Homo sapiens: one gene and its partner. The protein of the gene in region 1 interacts with the protein of each later gene in a pairwise test. Each region holds a gene or a part of one and is shown on either strand. Other genes may lie near its edges.

Region 1 (3,500 bases):
TGATATTGCCAACACCTTTCGTTTGATTGAGAAATTCAATAGGAATGTGGTTTTCATTATATATACAGTCCGCATATGTATGTATGTATGTGTGTGTGTACATATATATAGTCTATACATATATACATATACATAATGTATTATATACTATACATATATATGTATATATGTATTATATATAGTCTGTATGTATGCATATGTGTACATGCAGACTGCATATGTGTATATAGTCTCTCTATATAAATACATAATATATATTATATATGCAGTCTGTATATGTATGTGTATATGGTCTGTATATGTATGTGTGTGTATATATATACAGTCTATACATATATACATATACATAATGTATTATATATTATAAATATACATGTATATATGTATTATATATACCGTCTGTATGTATATATGTATACACAGACTGATAAGTATGTATATATACAGTCTATATATGCACACATATACATAATATATAATCAGTCTGTATATGTACATATGTATGTCTGTGTGTATATATACACAGTCTATGTGTATATATGTATGTATACTGTCTATGTATGTGTGCATGATATGTGTGTATATATACATACATAGTCTGTGTATGTATATATATATGTATACCATCTTTGTATGTGTGATGTGTGTGTGTATATATATATACAGTCTGTATGTATGGTGTGTGTATATATGTACAGTCTGTGTATATGTGTATATGTATGTATACACTCTGTGTATATATGTATGTATGATGTGTGTGTATGTGTGTGTATATATATATATATAGCCTGTGTATGTATGTGTGTTTATATATACAGTCTGTATGTATGTATGGTGTGTGTATATATACACAGTCTGTATATGTATGTGTGTGTGTGTGTGTATATATATATATACAGTCTATGTGTGTATATATGTATATATATATACAGTCTATGTATGTATATATGTATATATGTAGGTATACAGTCTATATGTATGAACGTGTGTGTATATGTATATGTATGTATACAGTCTGTGTATGTATGGTGTGTGTATATATATATATATACACACACAGTCTGTATATGTATGTATGTGTGTGTGTATACATATACAGTCTGTGTATGTATGTATATATGTATGTATGTATACAGTCTATGGTGTGTGTGTGTATATATACACACAGTCTGTATATATGTGTGTGTGTACACATACACAGTCTGTGTATGTATGTACATATTATATATATTCACACCCACCGACACACACAGTCATGCCTTGCTTAATGACAGGGATACATTCTAATGGTCGTTAGGTGATTTGGTCATTACGTGACCATCTAGAATATCCTTACACAAACCTCTCTAGATAGTGTCGCATACTACCCACTCAGCTAGGCTATGTGGTGTCTCCTATTGCTCCCGGGCTGCAAACCTGTACAGCATGTGACTGCATGGACTACTGCAGGCAATTGCAACACGATGATAAGTATTTGTTCATCTAAACATATCTAGACATAGAAAAGGTACACTAAAAATATGCTATTATAATCTTATGGGACCACCATCATATTTTCAGTCCATCATTGATTAAAATGTCATGATGTGGTGCATGACTATATATGTAACATGAAAATTACATATGTAATATGAAAATTCGATTACTATATATGTAATATGAACATTAGATTACTACATATGTAATATGAAAATTAGATTCCTTCCTGGGCTTTGTGAGCTAGGAATGGGCTTTATAAACCAGTAGTTCTCTTTAGCCTTCTGGAAAAATGAATGAGGAATTAAAATGTAGTCACCTGAGGGTCCAGTTCCTTTGCTCTCAGCAAGAATACACAGACACGAGGCAGCCCTGCCCAGCGCCCAGCCTGAGCGACACCCCCACCGGGGGGGCACCCACGTGGCCGTGCCCAGCAGGCGGGCCATTCTACCCAGCTTTCTTCAACGTGTAATTTCATGTGGGCCCCTTGCCCAAAAATAAAGAGCAAGCCATTGTCAGGGTTCAGTTTAGTAGGCAGGATTTCCTGGCTCTTGAGCTGGCCGCGTTTCGTGGGGCCTGGCGGCCCAGCATGAGCTCCCCTTGCAGACACAGCTCTTTATTCCTGTGGCCTGAGCAGTGCTGCCATCTGACCAGGAGAGTCCTGAGGACGAGGGTCAGAGAGGATCTGAGCTGACTGCTTTCCACCCCCACCCGGCACAGACCTGAGACGGATAGAAAGGAGGCGGGCCTGTGACTGGGAAGAGGACAGAGAGAAGATGGAACACTACTTCCCTCTTCATATGCCCCGTCCTGTCCTCTGGACTCAGTAGGAGACCGTGGTTATCACTATGTGTAGGTTACACAACTTTCTAGTGTTAGCAGCTGGGAAGCTTCCAGCAGTCATGGGTAAATCCCACAATGTGGATAAATCCTCAGCTCTCTCCACCCTGCCCCCCAGAGCACATGTTCTTCCATGTCACTGGGAGAGTCCAGTCTCGGGCTGTGGCCAGTTGTAAGCCTTTCTGCCACTGATAGCTCTGAAGTTGGAGTTCAGCACGAGGTTTCTGCATTTGACTGAGACCCGATGCTTTTCCTTGTCCTCCCAGGTCAGTTCCTGAATCAGGATGCCAGACTCACAGAAGACCCTGCAGGGCCCAGCCAGAACCTCACTCACCCTCTGCTCCTTCAGGTGGGAGAGGGGCCTGAGGCCGTCCTAACAGTGAAAGGCCACCAAGTCCCAGTGGTCTGGAAGCAAAGGAAGATTTACAACGGGGAAGAGCAGATAGACTGCTGGTTTGCCAGGAACAATGCCGCCAAACTGATTGACGGGGAGTACAAGGATTACCTGGCATCCCATCCATTTGACACAGGGATGACACTTGGCCGGGGAATGTCCAGGGAGCTCTGAAGCTGGCAGCCTTAAAGATGCAAGTGCATGAAGGACAGTGATGTGGGGAGGCCGTGGGGCAGCTCTTTTCATGGCTTGTACACGCCTCAGCTCCTGGCAATTAGCTGGACTCCATGACCCACCCCTGGTGCAGCATAGATCCGACGTCTGTCTGGGCGAAGGGTAGGGGTGGGTAGGGGCGGGAAGCCTGAGTGCAAATGTCATTTCCCTCTACTGCCTCTTCCTGCCTCTCCCCACCCTGCCCACATCCACAGAGGGGAGAGAAGGGTCATAGCTAAATGCAACAAAGTCTGTATCTTGTCCCAACCTGCTTTTCTGTTCTGTTAGCATATCATAAAGTAAGCCTTTCTGGTGAAGGAAGGTTGCTATGAAACTTTTTTTCTTGGTGGAAATGGACAAGTTTAGGCACTCTGCTTTTTGCCTTACACTAATGCTTAGAAAGCTGTCTTTTCAGTGGTGTTGCAGCCCCCAGATGTGTGGCCAACCTCTGCTGCAAAGGAATCTCTTGCTGAGTCCAGGCCACCAATCAGGCAAATAGCCCATACATTTGATCGTTGTAAACCATGAAGTCTTTTCTTGCAAGACGTTTTTCTTCTGCTGTGGTATCTTGCCCTTA
Region 2 (3,500 bases), on another chromosome or scaffold:
CTTTCTTCCATTTTTAGATGGAAAAGATATTCTTTTTCTAGCCATTGTGTCAGAAAGTCTGTTGGATATAAAAAGATATAGTGTGAAAATTATATGTCTTATTTAGAATAAAGCCAATGAGAAAATTAGAATCAGAGCTTATGCTGTTTCAGTTTTTATTTCTTTGCATCTGTATATTTTCCTCTTCGGGTATCAAAGTTTAAGTCGATTTCTCTTTGTAAGATTCTTTCTGAGATAGCATAATTAAATATTCAAGATGTGTTGCTATTTAACATTAGAGGGAGGCAGTCAGTAGCTTTATTCATAAAGTTCCACCTGTTCTTTTCACTGGGCTGATTAGGAAAATCCTGATTTATTGGGTTGAAAATTTCTAAACCTAAAATGTCTTGAGATTTTTAGAATATTTTATTTATCAGATGAGTGGCCTACACAATGTTTAACAGTGTAATGTTTAAAATAGAAACTAACTGATTGGATCCCTTCATCTTTTCTGATAACTGAAAAACAAATTTGGCTGTCATATCTGTGACATCTAAATTTGCTTATAAGTTTTTTTGGCTTTTAAACAGAAGGAATCTCAAAAGAATGATAAAGATTTGAAGATATTAGAGAAAGAGGTAAGCAGTGCTTTAAACTTAGTGAAAAGTACACATGATAGAAAGAGAGTTACACAGATTTAAGAGATAAGGATTCTGTTGCAGTGTGAGGAGTCCTGCAGTGAGGCAAACATGCCATCCAGAACAGTGCCTACAGGAAAACAGTTCTTACAGTATTTCACAGATCTATCCGGGCTATGTTAATGTGGTATGCTGGCAACGCCGAGATTAAAGATAGCCCACTTAATGAAAAACTGATAACTGAAAAATCATTATGTCAGTTGATTACAATTATATATGTGGATCAAATATTTATATCTATCCATCGTTCACAGTCTTCCTGTATGCTAACTTATGTTAACACAACATAGCTAGAGGATTTCTTAGTGAGCATGCAATCCTAGCTGGTTAGACTGTGATGAAGTTAGGCTAACTCGATGCATTGCTCTGCACAATAGGTATAGGCCTTCCTCATGGGTGAAATAACATAGAGCTGTGCTGTTTGATATGGTAGCTACTCACCACATGTGATGATCTAAATTAAATAAGAACTCAATTCCTCAGTTGCAATAATCACATTTCAAGTGCTCAGTAGCCACATGTGATTGGCAGCTACCATACTGGACAGGGCATTTCCACCATGACAGAAATTTCTATTGAACAGTACTAACCTAAAGAACCCATTTACTTTCCTAGCAATGCTAAGCAGCTCACTGTGAACTTTGCTTCTCTGCAGTCTTTTTTTTCTGTTTCCATTGCTGACCAACTCTTTTCCTCATGGATATATTCTTTCAATATATTAAAATCTTTCATTTGATTACAGTCGAATGTTGGCTTTCAACCAAGAGTATGTCAGAGTAACTGTAAATGTCTGCTCAGTTGCTCTGATTCTTTTTTATGTATTCTAATAATGTTAGCTATCATTTTACTGAGGGTACATGTAGGGGTTGATACTTACAGGAATAATCACTGAGTCTCAGTGAGATAGCTGGTAAGTGAGTGGTAGAGCCAGGATTAGAACTAATAATTTACACCAGTGACTTCATTGGGTATAGAATTTTAGGGTGGCAGGTTCCCCCCCATTATATTAAAAATATCATTTCATTGTCTTTTGGCTTCCACATTTTCTGTTGACAAATATTGGTTTGGGTTTTTTTTTGTTTTTTGTTTTTTTAATCTGGTAATAGCAGCAAGAATGATGGCTTGCCAATGCCTAGTACATTCTCCTCAGAAGCCCAGCTCTGCCTTCTTGAAATAAAAAACATTTAGCATTTTAAGCTAATTTGAATTTGTGTAATTGAAGCTAGAGAAAATAACTATTATAGGTGGAAATACCTTAAAAGTGAATAAATAGCGGCCGGGTGTGGTGGCTTACACCTGTAATCCTAGCACTTTGGGAGGCTGAGGCGGGTGGATCACGAGGTCAGGAGATCGAGACCATCCTGGCTAATATGGTGAAACCCCGTCTCTATTAAAAATACAAAAAATTAGCCGGGTGTGGTGGCCCGTGCTGGTAGTCCCAGCTATTCGGGAGGCTGAGGCAGGAGAATCGCTTGAACCCAGGAGGCGGAGCTTGCAGTGAGCCGAGATCGTGCCACTGCACTCCAGCCTGGGCAACAGAGCACAGAGCAAGACTCCATCTCAAAAAAAAAAAAAAAAAAGTGAATAGATAGCTTAATTGTACTTGGAACTTATGGCAACTAAAGTTCTTATGTTCTTAAAATGCATTAAGACTTTTAAGATGTATCATAGGTAAATATGATTATTCAAATAGCTAGTAACATTAGAATATCTACAAGCATAATGTCAAAATCAGAGATTTTTCCAGAAACTTTAGGGGTGATTATTGGTAGCATCTCCTTATGTTGGCATTCTATCAGTGAATCATTTATTATCACCTTGTTTTTGTCCAGATTCGTGTTCTTCTACAGGAACGTGGTGCCCAGGACAGGCGGATCCAGGATCTGGAAACTGAGTTGGAAAAGATGGAAGCAAGGCTAAATGCTGCACTAAGGGAAAAAACATCTCTCTCTGCAAATAATGCTACACTGGAAAAACAACTTATTGAATTGACCAGGACTAATGAACTACTAAAATCTAAGGTATCTGAGCCTCATGATAATATTTACAATTGAATAAATATAAACACGTTTTTTAGGGCCGGGCACGGTGGCTCACGCCTGTGTTCCCAGCATTTTGGGAGGCCAAGGCAGGCGGATCACCTGAGGTCGGGAGTTCGAGACCAGCCTGACCAACATGGAGAAACCCTGTCTCTACTAAAAATACAAAAATTAGCTAGGCCTATTGGCGGGCGCCTGTAATCTCAGCTACTCGGGAGGCTGAGGCAGAAGAATCACTTGAACCCAGGAGGTGGAGGTTGCAGTGAGCTGACATGGCGCCATTGCACTTCAGCCTAGGCAAGAGAGTGCGACTCCATCTCAAAAAACAAAACAAAACAAAACAACATACACCAGGCGATTCAGATTCATTTTGTTAAGCAAACATGTTTCAAGAAATCCTTTCTCAGGGACTTGCTTTAGAGTCTTGCAATGGACTTTCCAGCATATAGAGGTAAGTGACCACCCAAACAACCTTTCAAAAATGAACCAACAGGCCAGCCACAGTGGCTCACACCTGTAATTCCAGCGCTTTGGGAAGCTGAGACGGATGGATCACTTGAGGTCAGGATTTTGAGACTAGCCTAGCCTAACATGGCGAAACCCCATCTTTACTAAAAATACAAAAATTAGTCAGGTATGGTGGCGTACACCCGTAATTCCAGCTACTCAGGAGGCTGAGGCATGAGAATAGCTTGAACTCGGGAGGCTGAGGCATGAGAATAGCTTGAACTCGGGAGGTGGAAGTTGCAGTGAGCAACACGGCACTCCAGCCTGGGTGACAGAG

Evidence for each region. The genes of interacting proteins can lie anywhere in the genome.
Region 2: the proteins of ITIH5 (region 1) and HMMR interact in a two-hybrid assay, tested with the Homo sapiens proteins (one large-scale study listed by BioGRID and IntAct).

Annotation. Positions count from the first base shown.
Region 1 is NC_000010.11:7,562,467-7,565,966, reverse strand, and holds part of ITIH5 (inter-alpha-trypsin inhibitor heavy chain H5 isoform 1 precursor), read left to right. Parts: intron 1-2,582; coding exon 2,583-2,884; 3' UTR 2,885-3,500. UniProt on the Homo sapiens protein: May act as a tumor suppressor.
Region 2 is NC_000005.10:163,467,132-163,470,631, forward strand, and holds part of HMMR (hyaluronan mediated motility receptor), read left to right. Parts: intron 1-569; coding exon 570-617; intron 618-2,509; coding exon 2,510-2,698; intron 2,699-3,500. UniProt on the Homo sapiens protein: Receptor for hyaluronic acid (HA). Involved in cell motility. When hyaluronan binds to HMMR, the phosphorylation of a number of proteins, including PTK2/FAK1 occurs.